Linked DNA regions of Homo sapiens: all the other regions are linked to region 2. The links come from fine-mapping of genetic effects on gene expression. A gene starts in region 2. Each other region holds a variant in brackets. All regions are shown on one strand. Distances are between the middles of the regions. Region 1 overlaps MTARC1 (mitochondrial amidoxime reducing component 1). Region 2 holds the start of C1orf115 (chromosome 1 open reading frame 115). Region 3 has its middle 28 kb from the start of C1orf115. Region 4 has its middle 15 kb from the start of MTARC2. Region 5 holds the start of MTARC2 (mitochondrial amidoxime reducing component 2).

Region 1 (5,106 bases), 110 kb before region 2:
CCACTCGATGATGGGTGAATTACTAAAAACAAGGCCGGCTCAGCCACCATTGTGTTACCGCCCAGCTTCACATACAGAATGTTCTCAACTAGGGAACACTCAGAGATAGAGAGAGAGATACGGGTTTTTAGAGTAAGACTCAATTGAAAGAAATCTCCGAGATCTGAAGTTCTACTCTGGGCCATCTCCTCTTCTCCTGTCATCCGAATCTTACTGTCACAGAATTTTGGGGTGGAAATGGCTTCAGCATGACCCTCGGTGCACAAATCACACAGGGGAGAAAGAAAGCTTAAAGTCGATCATAGGGAAAAAGCTGGTACCTGAGCCAAACTCCCAGGAATGAAACTCTTCCTTACCTCCCTGTGGTACTTAATGTCCTAGAACTTTTCCACAAATTGTCATCGACCTTGATTCTCACAGCTCCCATCAGGCGAGGGAGTCATTGAAACTGCCCGTGTTTTACAACTGCAAGAAGCAGATGCCTCGGCGAGTTTGGTGACCTGTCCAGGCTTGTACGGTCACTTGCGGAAGCAGGTGGATTAGAATCCAGCTGTCCCAGCCCCATACATATGCCCTAGAATTCTCAGGGTTCCTCTGGCCTTGTACAATTGGGGTTCAAAACCCAGCCCCTCCTTGCTGTGGTATAGCCTAGGGCAGGCCACCTCACCTCCCCAAGCCTCTCTCTTCTCTCCTGTAAGATAGGAATGATAGCTTTATCCCGCTGGGCTGCCGTGAGGCATAGAAGAGACAACATACTTAAGCGCAACACAAGTATTCATTCAAAACCCTCCCCACTCATTTCTCTTTTCCTGAGAAGGAACGTTCTCAGGAGAAATGGCTCTCCTAGCCATAGCTGGTGGAAGATGAATATCAAGGAGATGGTCAAAGGCAACCAAACACTGATTATTTTCCTGTTGTCTAAGTCAGGCTGGCCCATGGTGCACAGGAGCAGGACAGGCAGAAATTTCTTGTCACAAAGAAGCACTGAGAGATGCCCAACCCAGGACCTTGGGGGACATGCACACAGTCCACCCGCCTCACACTAGGAAGTTCTCCACCATCTTTAGAAGAAACGCTACCCTTGGAAGTTTGGAGCAATGAGTATTTTATATGAAGCATTAGCAGTGGATTTGGGCGTACTTTTATTATCCTCCATCGATTGATATTGCTTTTATACATCTCATAAATTACATTATCCAAACTGACCCTTCAACAGACCCTTAAGGTAACCCTAGGCAGAAATATGATCATCTCATTGTTCAGGCAAGGTAAATGGGACTTAGCGGGGCTGCTCAAAGTCATGCAGAAGCCAGTGCAGAAGCTGAAACCAGCCGTCACATCTTCTGGTTTGAATGTGGGAATCAAATTCTTAGATTATTTCTCTTTCAGCATAGTTTTGCCTCCGTACAGCAAAAGTGAAGAATATAATTGGCTCCTCTGAGGATAAAAGGTTAAAACTCAATTGCTTTGATTCCATTTTTCCCTGTTATGGAGGAAATGGGCAGACGTAAGAACCACTATATGGTCCCCTTTACCTCTCCCTTCTCAACATAAATTTGAGGCACAACCAGAGCTCCTGAATTCCTAGCTGTGGGTCAGGGTTTCTGTTGAGTATCCACAGCTGGTGGCCACTCACCATGCCTCTAGGCCACCAACCTCTGCCTTCATGGAAGCCCAGGGAGAGAATCAAGTTAAATAGCCAAAGGCCATTTATTACAAAGGTAAATTTGCTGCCAGAATCCTGTGGAATCCCAGAAACCAAGCCTCAGGGCTGTTCAAGCTAAGTCACCACGCAAACATCTGAGGGCAGATGGAAGGTGGCACTGCAAGCATTTCAGGGTAGTGCCATGAAGCTTAGGGGCAACAACCTCTCCCAACCCTCACCCAGCAGCCTTGCAGTAAATGCCTGTCTTCTCCAAGAGAGCCGTCTACTAAACAGTAAGACCATCCTTTAACAAGACAGGAGCACACACTTTCTTTGTTCCATGGCCCACACAGATCATGTAGTCTATGCAAGAAAATGTGACTCAACAACGAACCTGTCAACTCAGAATTCTCCTTAGAAGCCTTAGATACTGAACTGCCTCCTTGATGACAGTCTCTGACCCATCAACATTTGTATCCTCCACACAGAAGTCTGCACTTATTAAGTGCTGAATAAATCTAAAAATCAAATTGTTATGTATTACAGAGTTGATAAATAATGCACCCTTCAGAATAATCTAATCCAATGTCAAAGACTCTCATACCTTAAAAAAGAAGTCAAATCCAAGGAAAGATCCAAAGGGGCATAGTGTTACCTCTGCATAGACATCGCATCCTGAAATTACAATATTGGGCCTGAAGTTGGTTGCTTTAACTTTCTTCTCTAGCCTGGAGTTGAGATCCGCCAGCGACGCCTCAGAAAGGATCAAGAATGGGCTGGTGTCTGAGTAAGCAATCTGATAAGGAAATAGACATTGTTATAACACATGGCACACCAACTTTTCAGTGGTTAGGTGTGCCTAGTTCCTAGACATAGCCTCCATGCTCCACCCCACCCCACACACAATCTTTCAAAGTAGTTCTCTTGTTCTTTTAATAGAAGTCACAGTGACTCAGAAGTTTT[C/A]AATAGCCTTGCAGATAGCAGAAACTGCATGGTGGAATGAAGGGAACAAGGACTCAGAATCAATCCTAAGCTGCCACAAGGCATGTGCCCTTGGGGACATCACTGAACCTTTCTAAGCCTCCCATTTCTCAAATGTTTAATAAGGTGGTTGAGTTTGATGACCTCATTATGTTTGATTTAAATGTTCACTAATTCCATGAATACTTATTTTATGCAACTTACAAATTAATATTTATGTTGACCATAATTTATGCATTTGCTTGTTTCTTTATTTATATATTTTGAGACAGAGACTCCTTGTCACCTGGGCTGTAGTGCAATGGTGCCATCACAGATCACTGCAGCCTCAACTCTCTGGACTCAAGCAATCCTCCCACCTCAGCCTCCTTAGCAGTAAGGACTACAGCATAATTTATTTTTTTTATGGCCATGGTAAAAGCAGTATATGGTACTACAAACCCTGCTTTTATGATGAATCCTTAGAGCTTTATGCCATTAAGGCTGATCATTTGAGTCTGTGTATCTCCATACCCATGCCAACTTGCACAATTGGAATCTGACATACAACTGCAAACTGTAAAAATTCTGGACTCCATGTGCAATTACAGAATGGAATGAAAAAAAGACACTGGTGCAGAACAGTTTTGAAACCCTACTGGCATCAGAATGCTTACACAAATAGGAAGGTAGATGCTCAAGGGCAAAAATTCAAGAGTCCCCCAAACAAAGAAACAAACAATGCTTCCAAGGGAAGGGCTTTATTTCTGCCTACTGCTTGTGATCTGAGCTACCAGAGGGCTGCCCCAGAAAACAACAGAGCCGAGGTCATCAGAGATGCCACCTGAGCCCCCTGATCTGGGGGTGACTGCTTTCTACCCATGGAGGCAGCAGAACCTCTCACCTGGTCCTTGGGTCGGAACAAGTCTGCTATTTGATGAGGACGTCTCGGTCGCATGTGAGGCTCGAAGTGCACCAGGCGGTAGGGCTGTGACTTCAGGAAGCTGGTTATCCACTGGGCGGTGGCCTCGCCACAGTCCCTGCCCTCTATCTCCAGGCCGTGCACTCTGCAGGGGTAGCAGGAGCAAAGGGCAGACATGGCTTTGAAAATCCATGCACCCTAATATGTGCCAGCTATATCAGAAAAGCTGCTCCTAGCTGTAACATTACTGTCATTTCTTAATTATCAGAAGATGTAATTTTAGTCCTGGTCCTGACTCCAAACCTGTGTAAGGCCAAATGAAAATGAAAGCACCCCTTTAAGCATTGCTTTCCTCATTTTAAAAATCAAGTTTTGTACAACTGTGTCTCCCTACCTGGAAGGAATGCAGGGAGGATGAAATGAAATAATATATTTAAAAATGTACTGAGTTCTCCAGAAGAAAACTAATGTATCAGTATAAAGTAAACTTAGAATTACTGCAAAATCTAGTTCACCCAGCTGAATAGCGACCAGAAATCTTTATTCACAGGCCTGGCTATGCTTTGCCAGTATAGTACAGCAACAATATGAAAATGTTCTATAAAGCCTAAAACATTACAGATAATAACTATATATATAACAATCATTAACAATAATATTATATTTATTTAATAATAACAATAATAATCTACTGGATTTGATTGCAAGTTATAACTTTGTAGGATTTGAAGTTCCCACTCCCCAGCACATAGTCCTGTGCAGGGCTGTTTGGCGTTATATGAATTTCACAGCTATGGAGAGGAAAATAAATGCTATGGTGTAGGCCAGTGTTTCACAAAATGCAAGACCATTACCACTGCTGGCATTCAAGATAACTGTAGATGGCACCTGGGTATAGCATTAAATAACAGTGAATTGCACAGAGAGAAATTTCAGTTTAGTGGTAATAAATCTTTACCTTTTAGCAACACTTGATAATCTCCTCTTTTAACAAAGAAAGAACACACCTTAGGTCCAGAGACCTCTGTAGGCAACAGCTTCTAGCTAGAATTTAGTAATGTTTTAGCATATTGAGTGTTGGTTACTTTCTGGCAAATTATATAGGTAGCCATATAAAGTTTGTATACAGGTAGCCATATAAGGTTTATAGGTAGCCACATAAATTTATATATAAACCCATATATATAAATTATATAGGTAGCCATACAAAGCCGTATACTTGGCAAATTATATAGGTAACTACATAAAGTTTCTTTTTTAAATAAATGTGTTTAAGATTAGTTTATAAGCTGAATCAATTTAAAGAGAAATATTAAGTAAACAAGAGTACAGGTGGTTTATGGTTTGGCCTACTATCATCGTGGTGTTATGCAAATGCTGGAAGTTTGAGAAAGCTTAGTGGATCAAGTAAATCTACTTGGGTGAGCATTCCATTTCCACAAATGACTAGCTCCATGGCCTTGGTGATAGTTTCTTATTCTGAGACTCAGTTTCTTCATCAATAAAATGGGGGTAGAAGCAGAACTTTGTTGTGAGGATTAGGAACAATCCGTAAGAAGTCCCCAAACAATTCTTAGGA
Region 2 (5,106 bases):
AACCACTATTTCAGTGTCATTTAAGAGAGTGCATTTGGAATTCTTTGATCTGAGTAGAGCTTTCTACCCAACTACTCTCTCAGAGGGGAGCTGGGGTCTCGGGGAACAAAGAGGGGTCACCTGCTTTATATCTCCATGTTTGAGCCTGGTGACCCTCTCAGGTGGCTCCAAGAAAGTAGAAGCTGAAGTCACTTTTGAAGGGCAGAAAGGAGAGATCCAACCCTAACCTGACGACATCCTCTCACCTGGCCTCCTGGGTCCATTGAACTAGCGTGCAACACTCTAGAGCTTTCATGCCCACAGCTGGGCTTGTGATGGCCCCTCTACCTGAGATGACACCACTTCTCTATCCACTGAAATCTTGTTTTTTTTGTTTGTTTTAGTTAAGGCAAAATTCACATAACATAAAATTCACCATTTTAAAGTGCGTACAGCCCGGTGGCATTTAGTACATTTACATTGTTGTGCAACCACCACTTCTATCTAGTTCCAAAACATTTTCATCATCCCCAGGAAAAAACACATTACCCATTAAGCAGATGGGCTCCATTCCTCTTTCCCGCAGTCCCTGGCAACCACCAATCTGTGTTCCATCTCCATGGGTTGACCTATCCTAAGCATTCCATACAAATGGAATCATACGCACAATATGTGATCTTGCGGGTCTTGTTTACTTCACTTAGCATAATATTTTTAGAGGTTCATCATATTGTAGCATGGATTAGTACATTTCCTTCCTTTTATGGCTGAATACTATTCCATTGTATGTATATAACACACTTGTTTATGCATTCATCCATTTAGGGACATTTGGGTTGTTTCCACCTTTTGACTATTGTAAATAATAATTCCATTAAAATGTGTATATAAACATTGATTTGAGTACCTGTTTTCAATTCTTTGGTTACATCCCTAGGAGTGGAACTGCTAGATCACAGAATAAGTCTACACTGAACTTTTTAAGGAACTCCCAAATTGTTTTCCACAGCAGCTGTCCCATTTTACATTCCCACCAGCAATGTACAATGGTTCCAATTTCTCTACATTCTCGCCAACATTTGTTATTCGGTTTGTTTGGACATTTTTTGGAGTAGCCGTTCTAGTGGGGATGAAGTGTGCCTACTTCATACCACTTCACTGTTATCTGGTGAAATCTTAACTCATCCTTCTGTGCCCAGTTTTCATGTCACCGTGATTTGAAAACTTCCCTGAGTTTACAAGCTCACCGCTGAGGAGTGAACTGCCTGAGCTCTGTGCCCTGAAGCCCCCCCGGGGGCGGGGGGAGCCAGCTATGTCAGTGTCTCCCTGGGAGGCTGTGCCCTTCTCTAGGGCAGGGCTGCACTGTATTCATTTTCGCATCTCTACTGCTCAGCACAATGCCTGACGCATAATGAGTGCCCCCAAAATATCTTCAAGTCCTAGTCCTTGAGCTGAGGTTTCTGCAGTATCAGTTCACCAATGGAGAGGGACATGATGGCTTCTTTGTGCTCAACTGGGACCCAAAGCAGAGATGAATCGTCCTAGCAGGGCTCTAAGCCTGAAAGACCCAACTTTATAGTTTTACCCCTGCCTGTATTCTGCTCCAGAAGCTGCTGACATACCTTTAAAGAGGATGATAAACCTAAGCTCCCAGGCATGGAGACTGAATGGCTTCAGGTGTAAGACGGCATTGGGCAACACAGATAAATAGACAATAAATCAGATGGGGCCCGTGGCCTTTGGCCAGGACACAGTAACTTCTGTGACTTTATTCTGGGTGGCCTTGTCCAGGCCAGCAGAGCTTCCGGCAGCAGCTTCGACTGTTTCCATGCAGAGACACCTGGGAACTGCATCTGCGCTTTGATTTCCGCGAAGGAAACTGTCATTTTCTCCCATATTCATTCTTCCTAACCCCATCTCCCCGAGACAAACGGCAGAATGTTTTGAAGGCCCCAGAGTACACTGATAGTTGGCTAGACGAGAAAAATTCAACGAGCGCCTATTTATGTATTTGTTGCGCTCCCAGGCTCGGGAAATAACCTTGGGAATATTTGGGAGAGTAACCCAAACATTTCTCAACTAGTGGGATATCCTGGAGGGGATGTTACTGGAAAACAAATACACTGGGTTGCAATTTCTTTCTTTCCAACTGGGCCACCTTCTCCAAGTCACCTGCCGCGCTAACGCTTCAGTATTCCCATCTGTAATCAGGAAACTGATTCCTGATCTTACATAAAAACCACCGCGGTAGGAGCCCCTTGAGAATGTTCTTAAGAAGCCAGGAGCGCAATAGCAGGCACAGCAGGGACCACCCAGCGCAACCCCCGATTTAAGTTTCTATCACGACTCGCAACTCGCGGCTTCCCTCCGGCGAGGGAATGGGAGCGGGGGCGGAGGGGTCGCAGGTGCAGCCCGGAGAAACTGGGTGAGTCGATGGTAAGGACCCGGCTCCCGCTCCCCCGCGGGACACCACACCCGCGCCCCCCGGGCAGTGGTGGCGCAGGGCCCCTACCTTGCCGTACTTCTTCAGCTTCCTCCGGTACCTCTTCCTGGGCTGCTCGCTCGGCGCCGGCTCCTCCAGTGGCTCGTAGCGCTCGGGCAGGAGGGCGAAGTGCACCCTCCGCGCGCCCCGGGTCCCCGGGCCCCGCTCGTCCGCCGCGCTCGTCCCGCTCTCGGCCGCCGCCTCCGCCTCGTCCGCGTACTCCAGGTGCTCCAGGATGGCGGCCGCCTCCTCGTCCCCCTCGGTTCGCCCTCGCCCTCGGGGCCCGCGGCGCAGGAGGCTGCTCTCCGCCTTGCTTCGGAGCCTGGCTCCCACCGTCATGATGTCCCGGCCCCTCTGGCGAAGGTCCGAGCGCAAAGACACCAACCTTTGGTCCCCGCCCGCTCCTCCGCCCCAGCCCGGACGGGGCGGGGGATTGGGGGGGCCGCAGCGCCCCCTGGCCGTGGGGCCCGGGATAGCGTTGGCTCCGCTCCGAACTGGCCTACCAGGCGGCGGGCGCGCTCCGCCAGCCCCGCCCTTCATCCCACCTGCCGGCCAAACTGTGCAGACTACGGCGCGCACTGCACAATGAACATGCAAAACACCTTCAACTGCACTTGCTACGAAATTAATGACCCCAAATAATAGGACTCCATCTGCTCATGTTCAAATTAGCAACGATGGAAAATGATACTAGAGATCACGCTCAGTGCTAGGGAGGGCATGGCGAGATAGTCACGGTAACAGGATTCGTGGGAGTGCAAATTGGTGGCAAGGTTTTGGAGAGACGATCAGAAAATCTTTATCGTGAGTCTTAGGAAACGTCCGTATTCTAGGAAATATTCGGAAACGCAAGACAGTGTGTCCACGGTGTTCAACGGTCTGACTCAGTGAAAAAGTGGAGCAAACCAACAGGGAGGCGCAAAGGAAATTCTGGTGCAGACATGCCAGCATATGGCGCAGTCTTTAAAATCATGATTTTCAGGAATATCTCTCTGTGAGATAAGCATTATCAGTGTACTGTGAATCTCAACAAGCTGAGAGTGCCCTATTTTCTTAAGTGGGTAAATGCCTTTGAATTCTGGCTAATGTAGAATTAAGGGCCGAAAGCAGTGGCTCACGCCTGTAATCCCAGCACTTTGAGAGGCCGGGAGGATAGCTTCAGCCCAGGAGTTGGGGAACAGCCTGGGCAACATAGTGAGACCTCCATCTCTAGAAAAAAAAAAAAAAATTAGCCAGGCGTAGGGGCGCACACCTGTGATCCCAGCTATTCAGGAGGATCGCTTGGGCCTGGGAGTTTGAGACTAGCCTGGGCAACACAGGGAGACCTCATCTCTAGAAATAGAAAAACAAATACAAAAGTTTACCTGTAGTCCCAGTGAGGTAGGGAGATCGCTTGATCCTGGAAGGTGGAGATTGCAGTGAGCTATGATTGTGCCACTGCGCTCCAAAGGGGTCGACAGAGTGAGATCCCATCTCAAAAAAATACTTAGGTATAAAATAACATAGATTGTTAGATACACTGATATTTTAACATTAAAGTTTGTGATTAAATTTAAGAATAACGTGTATATGTTGGTATAAGCACATACAATGTTTACGACAATTTAGTTCACTAGGATGCAAAAGAAATTAGTTTTGTGATTCCAACTTAAAATGTGAGCCAGCATGGTGACTTTCACCTGTAATCCCAGCAACTCCACAGGCTGTGGTGGGAGGATCCCTTGAGGCTAGGAGTTCTGAGCAACGTAGGCCCCATTTCTAAAAAAGTGAAAATGTGTGGCTCGGTGCGGTGACTCACACCTGTAATCCCAACACTTTGGGAGACCAAGGCGGTGGATCACCTGAGGTCAGGAGTTCGAGACCAGCCTGGCCAATATAGTGAAACCCTGTCTCTACTAAAAATACAAAAATTAGCCAGGCATGGTGGCGTGCTCCTGTAGTCTCAGCTATTCGGCAGGCTGAGGAGGAGAATCGCTTAAACCCAAGAGGCAGAGGTTGCAGTGAGCGGAGATCGTGCCACGGCACTCCAGCCTGGGCAACAGAGTGAGACTCTGTCTCAAAAAAAAAAAAAAAAGTAATCAGCTAATTGATTTACGCTTTTATTTAACTTATGTAATAAGGTAATAAGTAATGACTTATATTTAATCTTAAAAACATAGAGTCTTTATATGTAAAATAGTATATAAAATTTATGTACAATTCAATTTCAGGTGAAATGGGTATGAAAATGAATTTAACTTACTATATTTATAAGAATTACTTAGAGTTTTGTTATAGAATTGAAGTACTTGAAAAGAAAGTCAAATATTAAATTTGTAAAAGTTGCTTGAAATGTTTAGGAGAATTAACTAAACAGTAAAAGTGCCTCCTTACAGTAATTGTAAAATTTTATCGGGTGAGTAAATAGTTTAAAACAGTATGTAATTTGAATTTAAAAGGTTAAGAGAAAGTAGATTTGTAGATTTGTAATTTTGCTAAAGCAACTATTACTTTATAAACAAACAGAGACCCTTGTAGTCCCTTTTTTTTTTGTACAAAACCGACCTCAAAGAACCCTAGGCTGCTTATCAAATGGTGATATAGTTTGGTTCTATGTCCCCACCAAATTTCATGTTGAATTGTAATCCCCACTGTTGGAGGTGGGG
Region 3 (5,106 bases), 27 kb before region 2:
GATGTTTTAAAACTTGCTTAAACTTTCAAAACAATAATTTTTTTAACCTTTTACTGTAGGTAAAAATCCACATTCTTATGCCTCCTTATATTCCTTTTACCAAAGGTATATTTTACTTTTCTTATACACCTTGCACATAAAACTGTTTCTTCAATACTACTCAGGAGGCCTTATTGCTTTTTAAATTATACAACATTTTTTGCATAAAATTTTTTTATAACCTTTTTTCTTTCATGACTTTCACAGACAATTCTTCGACATGTCTCAACTTTCTGACTTATTATAAACATTTCTTTCTTTAAACAACCAGTTAATTTATTTCAGGACAAGAATTTACCATATAACACTCTTTTATGTAAATTCTGCCTCCCCCTTTTTTTCCTTTTTTCTTTTTTTGAAGATAACCATTCTTTTTTTTTTTTTTAAAGCGAACTTTCTTTATGTCTGTGGACTAGATTGTCTACGGCCACAAGATTAGAAGTTACTGTAATACATGTTACACTGTTAACTTTAGCAAACTTTACTTTTGTTGAAAACCTTGTAAGTTTGGGATTTCAGTTATCCTTTGCTATTAATAAGACCTCGTTTAGTCTAAATTAACTTAGAATTAGTATAGATGGCCCTTTTTTTTCCCGTTAGCAAAGCAGCTGCCGCTACAGATTGAAGGCATCTGGGCCATCCACGGGTTACTGGATTAAGGATTTTTGATAGGAAGACCTCAGTGCTTTCGGGATATGCCCTTGTTTACACTGACAACAAAGTGGTATTAGAGTGTTACAGGGTTATGGAGAATACCTTTAATTATCAATTATAGGTTTTAAATTTACCTTGGCTTTTAAAGGAATAGGGTATACTGTTTTTTTCTTAACTACTTGTATATTTCTCTTTCTCTTTTTCTTTCTTTCTTTGACTTTCTCTCTCTCTCTCTCTCTCTTTGACTTTCCTTTTGCCTCTGTCTCTTCCTCTCTTTCTGCCTCTCTCTCTGCCTCTCTCTTTTCTTGACTCCTTCTTTGTCTCTCTGTCTCTTCCTCTCTCTCTTTGCCTCTTTTTCTCTCTGTCTCTTTCCTCTCTTTCTCTCTGCTGGTCTTTCCTTGCCTCTGCCAGCCGCTTATGCTGCTGTTCACTTAACTACTGTTTTGGGAAAGGGGGTCTAAAACCAGCTGTAACTAAGTGTCTCTGTACGGAAACTGGTCTGGTTGCCCTGCCTTGCAGGTTACCTTGTGCCATACCTTTGAAACAAGGGACCTGTCCAGGCTTCCTTCTGATGGCCAACACACCTCTAATGCTGGCCAGTCTATTTCACACAAAGTTCTAAGTTTTCCTGGTGTCATAGTAACACCGTAATCTCCCTTAAATCTTTTCTTGAATTTTTTCGACATAGTTCCTAGCGGGGTGGGCTTATTTGTGCCTGACCCATGCTTCTTCAAGACAAAACACCACACTCACACCACACATACACCACAAAACAAAGAACAGGTAAAAAGGGCACACACACACTTTTGCGGTTTACACCAAACCAAAATCAAAACCAAAATCAGAGTATCCAGAAATCCAGGCCAGGTCAAAACCAGAACCAAAGTATCAAGCAACCTAAGTCAAGTCAAAAACAAAAACCAAAGTGCCGGTACAGGCACACCGTGGGTGATCAGGCCACACTTCCACTCAAATGGAGTGGGCAAGTTCCGAAGACCAGTCCTATCAAGCAATTCAAACCAAGTCAAAACCAATACCAAAGTGCTGATAAAGGCACACCATGGGTGATCAGGCCATGCTTCCACTCAAATGGAGTGGGCAAGTTCCAAAGACTAGTCTTACCAAGTTTCAGATATCCAGACTCCAAGCGCCAGTTCCTTCCCGGTGTTCAGCCACTGCGTTGATCCTCCACAGGGGCGTGCCACACACTGCTCTGGTGAGGTGTCCCACCGGGGCAAATGCCTACCCGGGAGCACTCTCAGGATCCGTGTCGCTCCGGCTGGTTGGAGTCCCCCTCAGGGATGTTCCACAGGGCAGGCTAAAGCTGCCTAAGGAGCTGCCTTGACCGTCCATTAATCACCTCGCTTCCTGGTCAGAGAACCAAGAAATGTAGCAGGACCAGCCATGGAAAAAACCCCTCAGACACCGAGACACTGAAGGGAATGGCTTTAATCAGCTGGGAGTATCGGCAGACTAGCGTCTTAAAATCCGAGCTCGTCAGGTGCTCAACTTCTGTCCCTTTTAAGGGCTCACAACTCTAAGGAGGTCCACGTGAGAGGGTCGTGATCAATTGAGCAAGCCGGGGGCTGCGTGACAGGGGCTGCAAGCACCAGTGGTCAGAGTGAAACAGAACAGAACGGGAGGTTTCACAACGTCCTTCCATACTGTGTCTGGAATCTATAGATAACAACAGTTGCTAGGTCAGGTGTCGATCTTTAACTACCCAGCTTAGGTCAGGCAGGCCCAGGCCTGGTTTCAGATCTGGTTCCTTGGTTTTGGGTCTGGTTCCTAGGCGCCAGGCTACCTGCCTTTAGTTT[C/T]GCTTCTCTTTCCTTTTCTGAGTGTAAAACAATATCAAACAATAGGAGAGGGTCTCTCTCTTCCCTCAGTATGAAACAGTGTTTGGTTTTCTTTGGGCCATATTTGTGTAAATATGTTATTTGTATGTGTTCCAAAATTATGGGCAACTCCTGTAATTCTGATATGACTAAGTGTACATTATCAGTAATAATCATAATTGTCACGTTAAAATTATTATGTGCCACAAAGGTAACAAACTTTCTTGCCAATTGTGTCTTTGACTATGGTGGCCCTAAAACATTTTGTCATCCACAGACAATTGTTCTCTTGCTTTGGTACTGTTTAGACAGTTGTTTTATAATCAGCTATAACTGGTGCCCTTGAATGCAGGTTTCTAATAACTTTGGAGATTGTGACATCAGAACAGTGGAAAAAGGGGCACAGCTTGGTTTTATACATTTTAGGGAGATACGAGGCATCAATCAATATATGTAAAAAGTGTATTGGTTCCATCCGGAAAGACGGGGACAACTCGAAGCAAGGAAGGGGGCTTCCAGGTCACAGGGAGGTGGGAGACAAAGGGTTACATCCTTCTGAATTTCTGATAAGCGTTTCCAAAGGAGGCAATCACATACGCATCTATCTCAGTGAGCAGAGGGATGACTTTGAATAGAATGGGAAGCAAGTTTGCCCTGACCAGTTCCCAGCTTGACTTTTACCTTTAGTTCAGTAATTTGGGGGCCCCAAGATTTTCCTTTCACACTTCCCCCCTATTCTTTTTTAAAATCTTTTAGAGAAAGTATTTTAGAAGAAAATGAGTCTCTGATTTCAGGTTTCATCTGATCTCTCATGGCAAGGATGGTTTATTCCTAGACAGGTAGGTCCCAAAAGTTCATTTTTAGCAGGTTATGAAGTCTCATGTCCTATAAAGAGAAAATAAGGGGAGGAAGGGAGAAAAACAACAGCAAACAAAAGAATGATCCTGGAAAGTGGCTTATGTATGTAAATGGGATGCTGTTATTTTCTTCTGAAGTTTAAGTTGTCTAGCTTCAGTTTGCAGGGCTTTAAGAAACACAGCTTAGTTTTCAGTGATTTCAAATTAGGAAAAATTGGGGAAAAAAAGAAAAGAAAGAAAAAAAATATTGAAAATGTTATTTTGTAGACTTGTAGCCAGGAAAAATTAGAGTTCAGCCCAAACTGTAGAAAATAATAAAAATTGAAAAACATTAGGCAAGACTAGAATCTAACAACAAGTGTACTATAGTTTTTGAAACATATTTTTTCTCTCTCTCCAGTTTCCCATTTTCACTAAAGACAAATCATGGTAGGACCAACCTGCTTTATTTTACCTGTCCAGATTATTTGTATAAAGTACAGCAAGAATAATTATTTTTCACATAGGCTTTTTAAAATTGGCTTTGATGAAACTTTGTTCCATAGAAGAAATATCAAGACATTTTTAAAGCCGAACCCCGCGATGGATTTGTGCCACCACCAAATACCTATGAGTTGGGTGAATTACCTCTCCTCTTGAGGTTCCAAGATAAACCTAGGGCTCCTGGGCCTGTCAGAAGGTGACATTCTTTACTAACGACAGGTCAGAAACCCTGTACAGGGACTCTGTAGACAAAGTATGAGGCCAGTTTTCCCAAGGGCTTTTATTGGCTGCATAAGTCAGGTTTTATTCCTTAAGGAAAGCATGCCATTCCAGTCAAAGCCTTGGTAAAATAACCAGTTTCTCCAATTGTGTCCTCTTACAAATGAGAACAGATTCTTATTGCACTTATGCAAATAACTGTATTGTCGTAAGTTAAGAATACTCACAAATAGTTTCCAAATTCTTCAGAAATCAGGTAGAGAGAAACAAATATGCTCCAAATTTTGTTCATAGGAGTGTACTCAATTGTTAAAAGCTGTCAATAGCTCAAAAGAAAAGTTTCAAGACTCCGAAAAACAAAACAAAGGATCAGCAATGTTTTAAGCAATAAGTCAAAAAGATGAGTACAGTCCATGCAGTTAATTCCTGTTTTGCTTGATATTCACGGACATTTTAGCTCTCCATGAGTCCACCGTGCGCACATGTCATCAGGACTTTGTGTGGTTATATCATGGGCATGCATCCTCAACACTGGCAAAACAAACTTTGTAAATAAACTTTCTAAATTAACTGAGACCCTCTCAGATATTTGGAGTTCACAAATCAAAATTAAAAACTTTTGTACTTCAAAGGACACCATCAAGAAATTGAAAGGACACCCCACAGAGTAGAAGACAATATTGGCACATTATAGATCTTATTATATAAGGGACTTGTATGCAGAATATATAAAGAACTGCTACAACTCAACAATCAGAAAAAGTAACTCAATTTTAAAACAAAGCATTTGAATAGGTAGTACTCCAAGAAGATACATAAATGACCAACATGCATAAGAAAAGACAATCCACATCATTAATCATTAGGGAAACAAAAATTGAACCATGGTGAAATATCACCTCACACCCACTAAGATGGCTATAATAAAAAAGATAACAATAAATGCTGGTGAAGATGTAGATAAACTGGAACCCTCATACATTCCTGATGGTAATGTAAAATGATGTAGCCACTATGGA
Region 4 (5,106 bases), 43 kb before region 2:
GCTGGGATTACAGGCATGAGCCACTACGCCCAGCCCCTGATGTGATTATTATGCATTGCATGCCTGTATCAAAATATCTCTTGTATCCCATAAAAACATACACCTACTATGTACCCACAAAAATTAAAAATTAAAATAAAAACAGGAGTTTGAGGCTTTAGTGAGCTATAATCATGCCACTGCACTCCAGCCTGGGTGACAAAGCAAGACTGTGTCAAAAACAAAAGTCCCCTTAAAAAAGTGATTGAAAACAAGAAAGGAAGGAAGGAAGGGGGAGAATGAAATGATAAGCTATGTATAGTGATCTTCAAAGTTAAAGAATATTTTTTAACTTGAAACATTAGTAAGTACAATGTTAATTTTTAAAAATCAATGTAGCCTTGTTTAGGGCCTTTAGGGCCTTGTAACAAAAAATATATATACACACACTTATATACATATAGATTTATATGTAATATATTTCTATTTATTTAATATAAATATATATTATATATTTACATTTATTTAATAGAAATATATTATATAAGTACATAGTTATATAGTATAATTAATTATTAATTATAAATATATATTTAGAATATACATAATTTATAGTATATATTTACATATATACATATTTACATATAATACATACTATAAATTATATCTTACATATTATATAAATATAAACATTTATACATATTATACACATGTATAATATGTATCCCTGTGCCGTTTTATCCATTCATAGTGACTAACATCTCTGCATGCCCACAAGTTTCTCTTCCTCCCTGTGAGGATTTGACCTGGGAGAACAAACCAGCTCAGCTCAGGGAGAGTTACTTGTGTATTAGTCGGGCACCTCTTTAGATTGCAAGGAGAAGACACACATTCAGATTAGGTTAGGTTTGGGGGTTGTCATCAGGATACCCAGGGAAGTAATGCCTCAACGGCCAAACGTGTGTCCCAGAACAACATCTGAGGCGGCTAAGAGCTCAAAAGGGCTCCAGGAGAACAAGCACAAGGGTCAGTTGTTGTCCAAGCGTGAGCAACTTTCATTCACGCCCTGCTATACGCTAGATGCTAGTATGTAGTCTTTAATAATGATAGAGGAAGATAGAGTGTCTGATCTTGAGAAGCCAGTAAATCGCTAAGGTAGCATATCGGGAAATAGCCACTTCAATCCTGGCTGGAAAGTAGAGAGCAAAGGCCAGGAGAGAGGAGTGTACTAGGAAGGTAAACAAGCACAGATGGTAGAAAAAATTATACTGCACGCAGAGGAATGTGGACTTCATTCCACATAAGTGAGTAACATCATGTACCAATAAGAAGAGAAACTGGGTGGCTGGAAACATGAATATAATGGAAAGTTTTCATTTGTATACTTAAGCTTTTTGAATTTTGAACTGTGAAAAGTATTACTTGTTCAAAAAATTCAAAAATAAAATTATTTAAAAATCCAATGCAATGATTCTGGTGGTGTACTAGGCTCTGGGAGAGCGAAACAGCAAATATTCCCTATCAGCCTACAATCTACTAGATATTTTTAAAGTTTTATGGCTCATCGGTGACACAACACAGCTTTAGGTAGATTCCCAATATCAAAACATGTGTAAACAAATAATTATAAGAAAAATAGTAATTGTTTTCCTAAAGATATGGGCTTAGAGCTTTGAAAGTGCATGTTGTGGGCTGGGCAGCTTATTCTGCTTGAAGGTTAGTGGGAGGTAACATGTAAACTGGGATACGAAGAACGCATGCATAGGAGCTTCAAAAATGGAAAAGAGAGTAAAAGCAATTAATCAACGAGAAATACAATTTTCCAAAAAAAAAAAGAAATGTTTTTGGAGGAAAATAGTTTCGTATGATGATCGGACCAGCAAAGGGAATGACAGGAGGTGAGGCTAACAGTCGGGATGAGAACAAATTGTGCAGGCTTTGCCTGTTGTCTTAAGAACTATGAATTTCTACCCCAGAAAGCTCAAAAAACCCTTCATGGGCATTGGCATTCTGGAAGTTGGTGAATATGTACCTTTAGGAAAATGGATTTTATCTCCAAATAGTGGGGAAAAAAATTAATGGGAATTTCTTTTTCTATTTTGAGTTTTTTTCCCCATAATTTTTACTGAAACTTTCTGGTTTTATTCTGGTTAATATAGGAAGTTAAGAAAATCAGTATATAGCCAGCAAATATAGATGGGAAAACTCAGAAGCAAGTATGTTAAGAATGTTTGTTCTTTTTTTCTCCTTGTCAAATATGTTCACAGTTGTGATTTTTATATATCATATAAGATATCTTCTGTTACCAGGATCGCTCCTTGTCAATGTGTTGGGATTAACTATCATCAATGTTTCATCTTTTCCACAAGAAATCAAAGCTTCCTGACGGTTTGCAGCCCCCCCACAGCCTGGCCCATAGCTTGTTTTATTTGGCTTACACAGTTGTTTTAATCGGGAAGTGTCTAGCTTGTCTTTTAAAATCAAAATATCTGGCAATATGAGGTCTATATTCAGCATAATGAGAAGCAAACGGACCTGACTGGAGCCTGTCCCCTGTAGGCATCACCGCCCTGTAGGAGCCCCAGTTCCCGCCCACCCAGAGTTCAACCGGACCCCCTCCTTCAGCTTTTGACTTTGGCCCGGGTTAGACGGG[G/A]GATTTCCCGGGCAGTTGCTCCGGATTTACACGAGGGGGCGCTGTGATCAGGGTTTTGGACGGAAGGGTGGGGAGGAAATGCTTGAAGCTGGTTCTAACCGGAAGTGAAAGGAAACCCTCCTTTCCTTTCTGGTGAGTAAGTCCTAAGGAACAACCTCCTGTTACCCAACTCAGTGAAGAGTCGGGACTAAGAGTATTTTGAAATAGGAGGAATACTATATTTGAAATGTCAGAAGTCATAGAAAAGTGTGGGAGAAACAATGCCACACTTTTCTATTTTCCCTGCCATTTGAATAATACTTTGCAGTCTATAAAACTCTGTCGGAAGCAGAAGGCTATTCGGTCCTCACAGCAATCCCATGTCCGAAGTAGGAGAAGGCACTTGCTCCTGCAATAGCCGAGCCACTCAGAGTTCCTCGTCTCACCTAGGAGCGCCTACCCAGCCAGAAAGGGGAGGTCCCATGGCTGCTTCCTCACACTTTCCTTTTTAGGGGAGGAGGAGGAGGGGGAAAGGCCCTGGAGAAGGACAGGGTGCCAAGAATATGTGGCGAGAGGAAGGGACAGGCCAGAAGAAATAAGTTGAGAGATCAGTCCCAGGAAACTTCCTACCTAGAAGATGCCCTTCCTTGGCTGGGACTTGTGCCTCTCCCTGTGTATCTCAGGCACAGTCAATCTCAGTTTGTATTTGTTAAGTAAATAAATTACCCGAGGCATCTGTTGGGTCTTAACCTGTATATGGGAAGGGCCCTGTTATTCCATCAATATTAGTTACAAAATTATGGGGGCTTGGGCTGATGACACTGAGGGTCCGGGGACCTTCTCACCTCTGGTCAACCCTGCCCTGGATGGCCCCTAAGCTCTATCAGTGGCCCTGACTGTGTGTCTTTGTGGCTTTGATTTTGACGATGTTATCAACCAGGATGCAGAATCCTGCTTCCTCTCCCAGTTTTCATTTGCTTTTTTTCTGTGTTTGTTTTCTTTGGCTGCTACAGGGAGATTTGCTTTTCATCTTGGCAGCACGTGCCCCACTCAGAGTGGAAGAAGGCTATGGCAGGATACAGTGTTTTGGGAAGGGAAGAGAATCTCCTTGCTTGGGGACATCCTTTCCAAAACAAATTCCCTGTAAAGTCAAGTCCTGCTAGTGTTTCCCTCCAACCTCTCTGTGTTCTACTACTCGCCCAAGAAAAAAATTATACGAAGTGTCTCCTCACCCATGTTTAGTCACAAAAGACCTCTGTTTCCCAGGCTCCCTTTCATTCTACTTATTCATCAGTTCATCAATTGATTCGTCCATTCATTCATTTATTCTGTGACAGTCTTTACTCTTTCCTAAGTATGACCAGAAAATAATGACGTAAGTATGATCTACTCTACAGCATGTAGGTTGTAAGCATTGTTATGGTCTTTTTTAAAATTAAGATACAACTCACAAAACATAAAATGTACCATTTTAAAGTGTACAATTGTATTTGTCCATTTTCATGCTGCTGATAAAGACATACCCTAGACTGGGTAATTTATAAAGAAGAAGAGGATTGAGGGACTCACAGTTCCATGTGGCTGGAGAGGCCTCACAAACATGGCGGAAGGTGAAAGGCACATCTTACATGACAGCAGGCAAGACAGAGTGAGAGCCAAGCAAAAGGGGAAACCCCCTATAAAACCATCAGATCTTGTGAGACTTATTCACTACCACAAGAACAGTATGGGGAAAACTGCCCCCATGATTCGATTATCTCCCACCGAGTCCCTCCCACAACACGTGGGAATTATGGGAGCTATAATTCAAGATGAGATTTGCGTGGGGACACAACAAAACCATATCAACATTCCATTGTTTTGTAGTATATTCACCCTATTATGCAACGATCACTTCTCATTCCAGAATATTTCTATCACCACAGAAGGAAACCTCATACCTATAGCAGTCAGTCCCAGCTCTGCTCCCCTTATCCCCTGGCAACCACTAATTTGCTTTCTGTCTCTGAGGATTTGCCTATTCTGGACATTTCATATAAATGGAATGACACAATATGTGGCTTTTTGTGTTTGACTTCTTTTATTTAGCATAATGTTTCCATGTTTCATCCCTGAGCATACAGCATATAACAACAGAACATTCCTTTTTATAGCTGAATAATATTTCATCATATGGATAGGCCACATTTTGTTTATCTAGTCATCAGTTGATGAACTTTGTTCTGGCTGTTATTAATAATACTACTATGAACACTCATGTACATATTTTCTTTTCTTTTCTTTTTTTTTTTTTGAGTCAGGCCTTGTTCTGTTGCCCAGGCTGGAGTGCAGTGGCACAATCACAATTCACTGCAGCCTTGACCTCCTGGGCTCAAGCAGTCCTTCCAGCTCAGCCTCCTGAGTAGCTGGGTCTACAGGCACACACCACCACACCTGGCTAATTCTTGTAAGATAACATATTTTCAGTACTCATGGGTCTATATTGGAGTGGATTC
Region 5 (5,106 bases), 55 kb before region 2:
CCAGGGCCACGGCGGCCAGTCCTAGCGCGGCGACCCCGAGCCACCTGGGCCAGGGCCGGGCTGGGAGGCCGAGGCGGGCCAGCGCGGAGGAGCTGGAAGCGCCCATGGCAGAGCGAGGGCGGGCGCGGACCGGCGCACAGACCCGGCAGCGACCGGAGACCGGGAGGACGAGGAGGCCCTTAAGGATCCGGGCAGGCGAGAGGAGTCAAAGTTGACCCAACTACGGACCCTCTCACACTTTCACCGCCGAGACGGCAGAGCAGTTCCGCGGAGAGCGGGAATGCCTTAATGCGGTGACCAAGCCTGCGCGGTAATGGAGGAAGACAGGCAGACAGCGGCGGGGGTACCCTGGGCGCCGTGGGAGCGACGCCGCCCAAAGCAAGCGAGCTAATGGGGCGGCCTCTGGGGTGGTCAGTGTCTCCTCCCTCTTCCCCGCCCCTACAACACGACAGTTACCCATGCAACATGACCTTCAGCGCCAGCACTCTGCCACCCCCTTCTCTGCTAATACTGCACGCTTAGTCGCTCGACAAGATCACCGCAGAACGTGAAGGCGGGTTGCCCAACGGAGGATTTACAAACATTTGGGAACGACTTTTTCTGGCAGGTCGCTGTGAGAACTGCAGGACTTTCTGCACACAAAGACACAGTCTAAACCTCTGCACTCAAAGACGAGGAACTCTAGCGTGGCTTATAGGAGCATGACTCAAGGTCCCCCACCCTCCGCTGCCGCCTAACCTCGACCCCAGTAAAATGTCTTCCCGAGAAAGCTCAAGGCAGCCAGGAGAATTCCCCGTTTATTCTAGCCAACACCCGATGGTAAAGCCCCTGACCTCCCTTTTTTAGGATATTTTCTTAAAAGGGCTTACAACTGTGAATCCTTTCTCTGTTGCTTTGAGATGTATATGTATCGCCTACACCTCAGAAGTGTCTTTCTCAAGGACCTGAAAGCCATTGCTCTGAAATGCAGTCATGGGGAGGATAGGCCTCTGTCCCCCAGTCTCTGTGGGAGGATAGAATCCCAGCTTCATAACGGCCAGCTCCAGGCACAGCTGCCCGTCATTAATACTGACCGCCCCTTCATGATTTTTCACTTGATCCCCTGCTAGCTTCCCGGCCCTATTCTCTCCTTCACCCTTTAAAACGCCCATTCTGCTATGCACAAATGAGAATGATCAGCTTTTTCTCCTACTGTAAGTAGTTACTGAGTAAAATCTGTTTTCATGGTTTAACTAATGTCTGGCTTTGTTGATCTTTAACACCTCCATTCAAGCAAGCTATTGGGTTAACAGTGGATTTTCTCAGACAAATTAAGGTTTGAAGTCTTTCAAGTTTTTTGTTGTTGTTCTGTTTTTCAAAAGTTTGTCCCTTAAACTGTGGCACAGTTCTAGGAAAGTTTAAGGAGGCCAACCAGTGGGCCACCCCCCAAATCTGGGCTGGCCACCTCCAGAGAAAGGGGCCCGTTCTGGAGTGTGGGAAGAGACTCCGGGAAGGATGGAGAACCAGAGGAGCCAGGTTCCCTTTGGCTGTTCCTTGTGAAAAGTGAAAGACAAAACAGGGCCTGAATCTCTCCCCACCCAGGAAAAAACCTCAGGCCAGCAGAATTAGTCCCTCAATCCCCATACATTTACATCATGCTTGGCAGCTGCGACTTATGGATTTGTTTTTTAAGCATGGTGTGGTGAATGTGATGTGTGTACACTTGTAGCTGACCCCCTTTGCCTCTCCCAACTCCTGAGGAGGGTCAGAGTCCTCCCTGCCCACAAGCCTGCTGTCAGAGTGAGGGGCTTACAAAGCCATCGCCTCGCTATACGTGAGCTCCCAGACAGGGCAAATGTCTTATTGATTAATCATCTCTTTCTTTCACCACATAGATATTGATCATTCACCAGGCTTCGTCCTAGATTGGCACTGGGGATTTAAAGTTTAGAAGAAGCTGCCCTTCCATCCAGTTCACTGACTCCCCAGAAGACTGACACCTCCCCTGCAAGTCTAGAGGATAATGTCAGAGGAGAAGCAAGGTCAAGATGCAGAGGATGCAGAGGCAAAAGAGCAGCTGAATCTCAGGACAGTGCTGTTTTCAGAGGGCGGAGCTTTGGAGCTGAGACTTGAACATGAGGAGGGGCTTGGAGATGGGTAAAGGAGAGGATTCTGGGCAAAAGGAGCAGCACGTGCAATAGCCTGAAAAAATGGAAGGAACAAGAGAGTGTGGCATGTTTGGGCAACCACCAGCAATCCAGCTGTATTAGGATGTACCTGTGCATGCAGCAGGTGGCGGGAGTTGAGGCAGGACAGGTGGGCAGAGGTCAGATCAACAGGCATCTTATCTCTACTTAATGTGGAGACACCTCAGAATTCTGAACAACAGTCTGGCATGATTAGACTTGGGTGCTAGGAAGGCCATTCTGGCTGCTCTGAGAAAGAGTAACACCAAAGATGGTTAGATGAGTTGCAAATGCCCTAGTTCAGGCTGATGTAATTCCAAATCAAGGAAAAATAACAGTGGGGCTGGAGATAGACATGTGGTTAGGAGAGATGGTCAGGGGACAGAATTAACAAGAGATAGTGATGACAGAACACAGAGCCAGAGGGAGAGGAAGAGCCCACGGGGCCTCCTGGCTCTGTGGCATAAAAGTCTGGGGTGGGATGGGGGTACCATTCTCAGAGATTAAGAATTCAAGAGAAGCTGGGCACAGTGGCTCACACCTGTAATCCCAGCACTTTGGGAGGCCGAGGTGGGCGGATCAGGAGGTCAGGATATCGAGACCATCCTGGCTCACATAGTGAAACCCCGTCTCTACTAAAAATACAAAAAATTAGCCAGGCATGGTGGTGGGCATCTGTAGTCCCAGCTACTTGGGAGGCTGAGGCAGGAGAATGGTGTGAACCCAGGAGGCGGAGCTTTCAGTGAGCCGAGATCGCGCCACTGCACTCCAGCCTGGGCGACAGAGAGAGACTCCGTCTCAAAAAAAAAAAAAAGAGAATTCAAGAGAAGAAGATAGTCTGGGAAAAAAGATGATGAGCCT[A/G]TTGTGAACAGCGAGTGAGAGGTATCTTTGAGACATCAAAGAAGAAATAGTTACCTAGATAGATGGGTAACTTGACCTTTCCATGCTTCCACCTCCTCATGTGCAAAATGATGGGGATAGACATCAAGTGAGGAACTTTGCCATGGTGAGTGCTGCCAAGTCTTTGCTGTCTTCACCAGCCATTATCTATCATAGCCTGCCCTGTTTAAGCTTCACCAATGCTGGGGTTGGGGGTGCCTTCAGGGGAGCAGGGAAATTCCTTATCAGTAATGTGTACATTTGCAGCCCAGCATCTTCATTTGTAGAATTAGTGAGGGGTGATGAGAGGCTGTATTAGTCCATTCTCACACTGCTATAATGAAATACCTGAAGCTGGGTCATTTATCAAGAAAAAATGTTTAATTGGCTCATAGTTCTGCAGTCTGTACAGGAAGAACGGCGGCTTCTGCTTCTGGGAGACCTCAGGGAGCTTTTACTCATGGTGGAAGACAAAGCAGCAGTGGATGTCTTACATGATAGGAGCAGGACCCAGAGAGAGGGGGGAGGTTCCACATGCTTTTAAACAGCCAGATCTCATGAGAACTCACTCTCAGGATGATAGCACCAAGGGGAATGGTATTAAACCATGAGAAACCAGCCCCATGATCCAATCACCTCCCAGCAGGCCTTAACTCCAACACTGAGGGTTGCAATTGAACATGAGATTTGGTTGGGGACACAGATCCAAACCATATCAAAGGTTGAGGATTCATGAGTCTAATTGGCTGTTTGCATATCTTTTTTCCCTTCTGATTTGAATCAACTTATCTATTTTTTTGTTAATTTATAAGATCCTTTTATAAATTAAGAAAATTACCCTTTTATCATGCCTTCCCAAGTCATAACTTTTTCCCCTAGTTTGTCATATTTTGGCAACTTCTGCTTAGGAAAAATCTTTCTAGTGAATAAGACATCATTGTCTGCCTAGAGGCACTGACATAGATAAAGAAAACTCTGTCAATTAAAATATCAACCAAGAAACCAGAGAAAAAAAGAAGCCTAAAACCCAAATATTACCTTGCTTAGCCAGGTCCTCTTCAGGAAGGTGAGTACCCAGCAGCCAATGGAAGTATTCATCAGGGCCATGTAGCAGTTTGTCTTTCCTGGGGAGATGAGCACATCAGATTATCAGGCAGTGAGGATAGTCAACCTTCAACCCATATAACAAATCTCATGACGCAGGCTAGGCTAAAATATTGTAACAACCTCAACATCTCAATGCTCTAACAAAATAAAAGTTTATTTCTCACTTACATCCCAGTTTGATGCAGGCCAAACATTAATCAAAGGTCCCCTTAGGCCAGGCCCAGTGGCACACACCTGTAATCCTAGTGCTTTGGGCGACTGAGGCAGGAGGATCACTTGAGCCCAAGAGTTCAAGACCAGCCTGGGCAACATAATGAGACCCTGTTTCTACAAAAAATTTAAAACAACAGAAAAAGAGAGAATGAGGCAGGCATGGTGGTGCATGCTTGTAATACTAGCTACTTTGGACACTGAGGCAGAAGAGCCGCTTAAACTCAGGAGTTTGAATGGATATTAAGCATATATATATAGTGGAAGAAGAACCATGGCTAGGAAGTCAAAATGCCCTAGTGACTATGAAAATCCAGCCACATGACCAGGGCTGAAAGCACCAGATTAGAAACTCAAGCTTGATAGTCAGCACCTTCAGCTTTGAAAGGAAGATGGCATTGGATCTCTCACCTACTTTCCCTTGAACACATAAAACCAAGTGGCAGGGACAGAGCAAGATGTCTGATTAGCAGCCTCTATAGATCATCCTCCATGCAGAGACACCAATTTAACAACTATCTATACTACAAAGTACCTTTATAAGAACCAAAAATCAGGTGAGCAATCAAAGTACCTGGTTTTAACTTCGTATCACTGAAAGGGGCACTGAAGAGGGTAGGAAAGATAGTCTTGAATTGCCAGTACCACCCTCCCCAGTCTCCTGGCAGTGGCCAAGAGAGAGTCTGTGCTCTTGGGGGAGGAAGAGCACAGCGATTGTGGAACTTTGCATTGGAACTCAGTGCTT

What was found.
Region 1: its variant is fine-mapped to the expression of C1orf115 in atrial appendage (GTEx, PIP above 0.99).
Region 3: its variant is fine-mapped to the expression of C1orf115 in lymphoblastoid cells (GTEx, PIP above 0.99).
Region 4: its variant is fine-mapped to the expression of C1orf115 in whole blood (TOPMed, PIP above 0.99).
Region 5: its variant is fine-mapped to the expression of C1orf115 in whole blood (INTERVAL, PIP above 0.99).

The regions. Positions count from the first base shown.
Region 1 is chr1:220,795,209-220,800,314 of GRCh38, reverse strand. It overlaps MTARC1 (mitochondrial amidoxime reducing component 1), which reads right to left. Exons shown (of 7, transcript NM_022746.4): 3 at 3,510-3,672; 4 at 2,301-2,441. Among named protein-coding and RNA genes, the nearest start is that of MTARC1, 11 kb to the right of the region's middle. The variant C/A (reference allele first, on the strand shown) is at 2,609.
Region 2 is chr1:220,688,097-220,693,202 of GRCh38, reverse strand. C1orf115 (chromosome 1 open reading frame 115) reads right to left here and starts at 2,840. Exons shown (of 2, transcript NM_024709.5): 1 at 2,492-2,840. The coding sequence starts at 2,800. RefSeq lists a silencer at 2,770-3,009.
Region 3 is chr1:220,715,480-220,720,585 of GRCh38, reverse strand. No RefSeq gene overlaps it. Among named protein-coding and RNA genes, the nearest start is that of C1orf115, 28 kb to the right of the region's middle. The variant C/T (reference allele first, on the strand shown) is at 2,511.
Region 4 is chr1:220,730,819-220,735,924 of GRCh38, reverse strand. No RefSeq gene overlaps it. Among named protein-coding and RNA genes, the nearest start is that of MTARC2, 15 kb to the left of the region's middle. The variant G/A (reference allele first, on the strand shown) is at 2,633.
Region 5 is chr1:220,743,532-220,748,637 of GRCh38, reverse strand. It overlaps MTARC2 (mitochondrial amidoxime reducing component 2), which reads right to left and starts at 316. Exons shown (of 8, transcript NM_017898.5): 1 at 1-316. The coding sequence starts at 106. It overlaps LOC124904516 (a long non-coding RNA gene), which reads left to right. Exons shown (of 2, transcript XR_007066884.1): 1 at 1-819; 2 at 1,875-4,318. The variant A/G (reference allele first, on the strand shown) is at 3,027.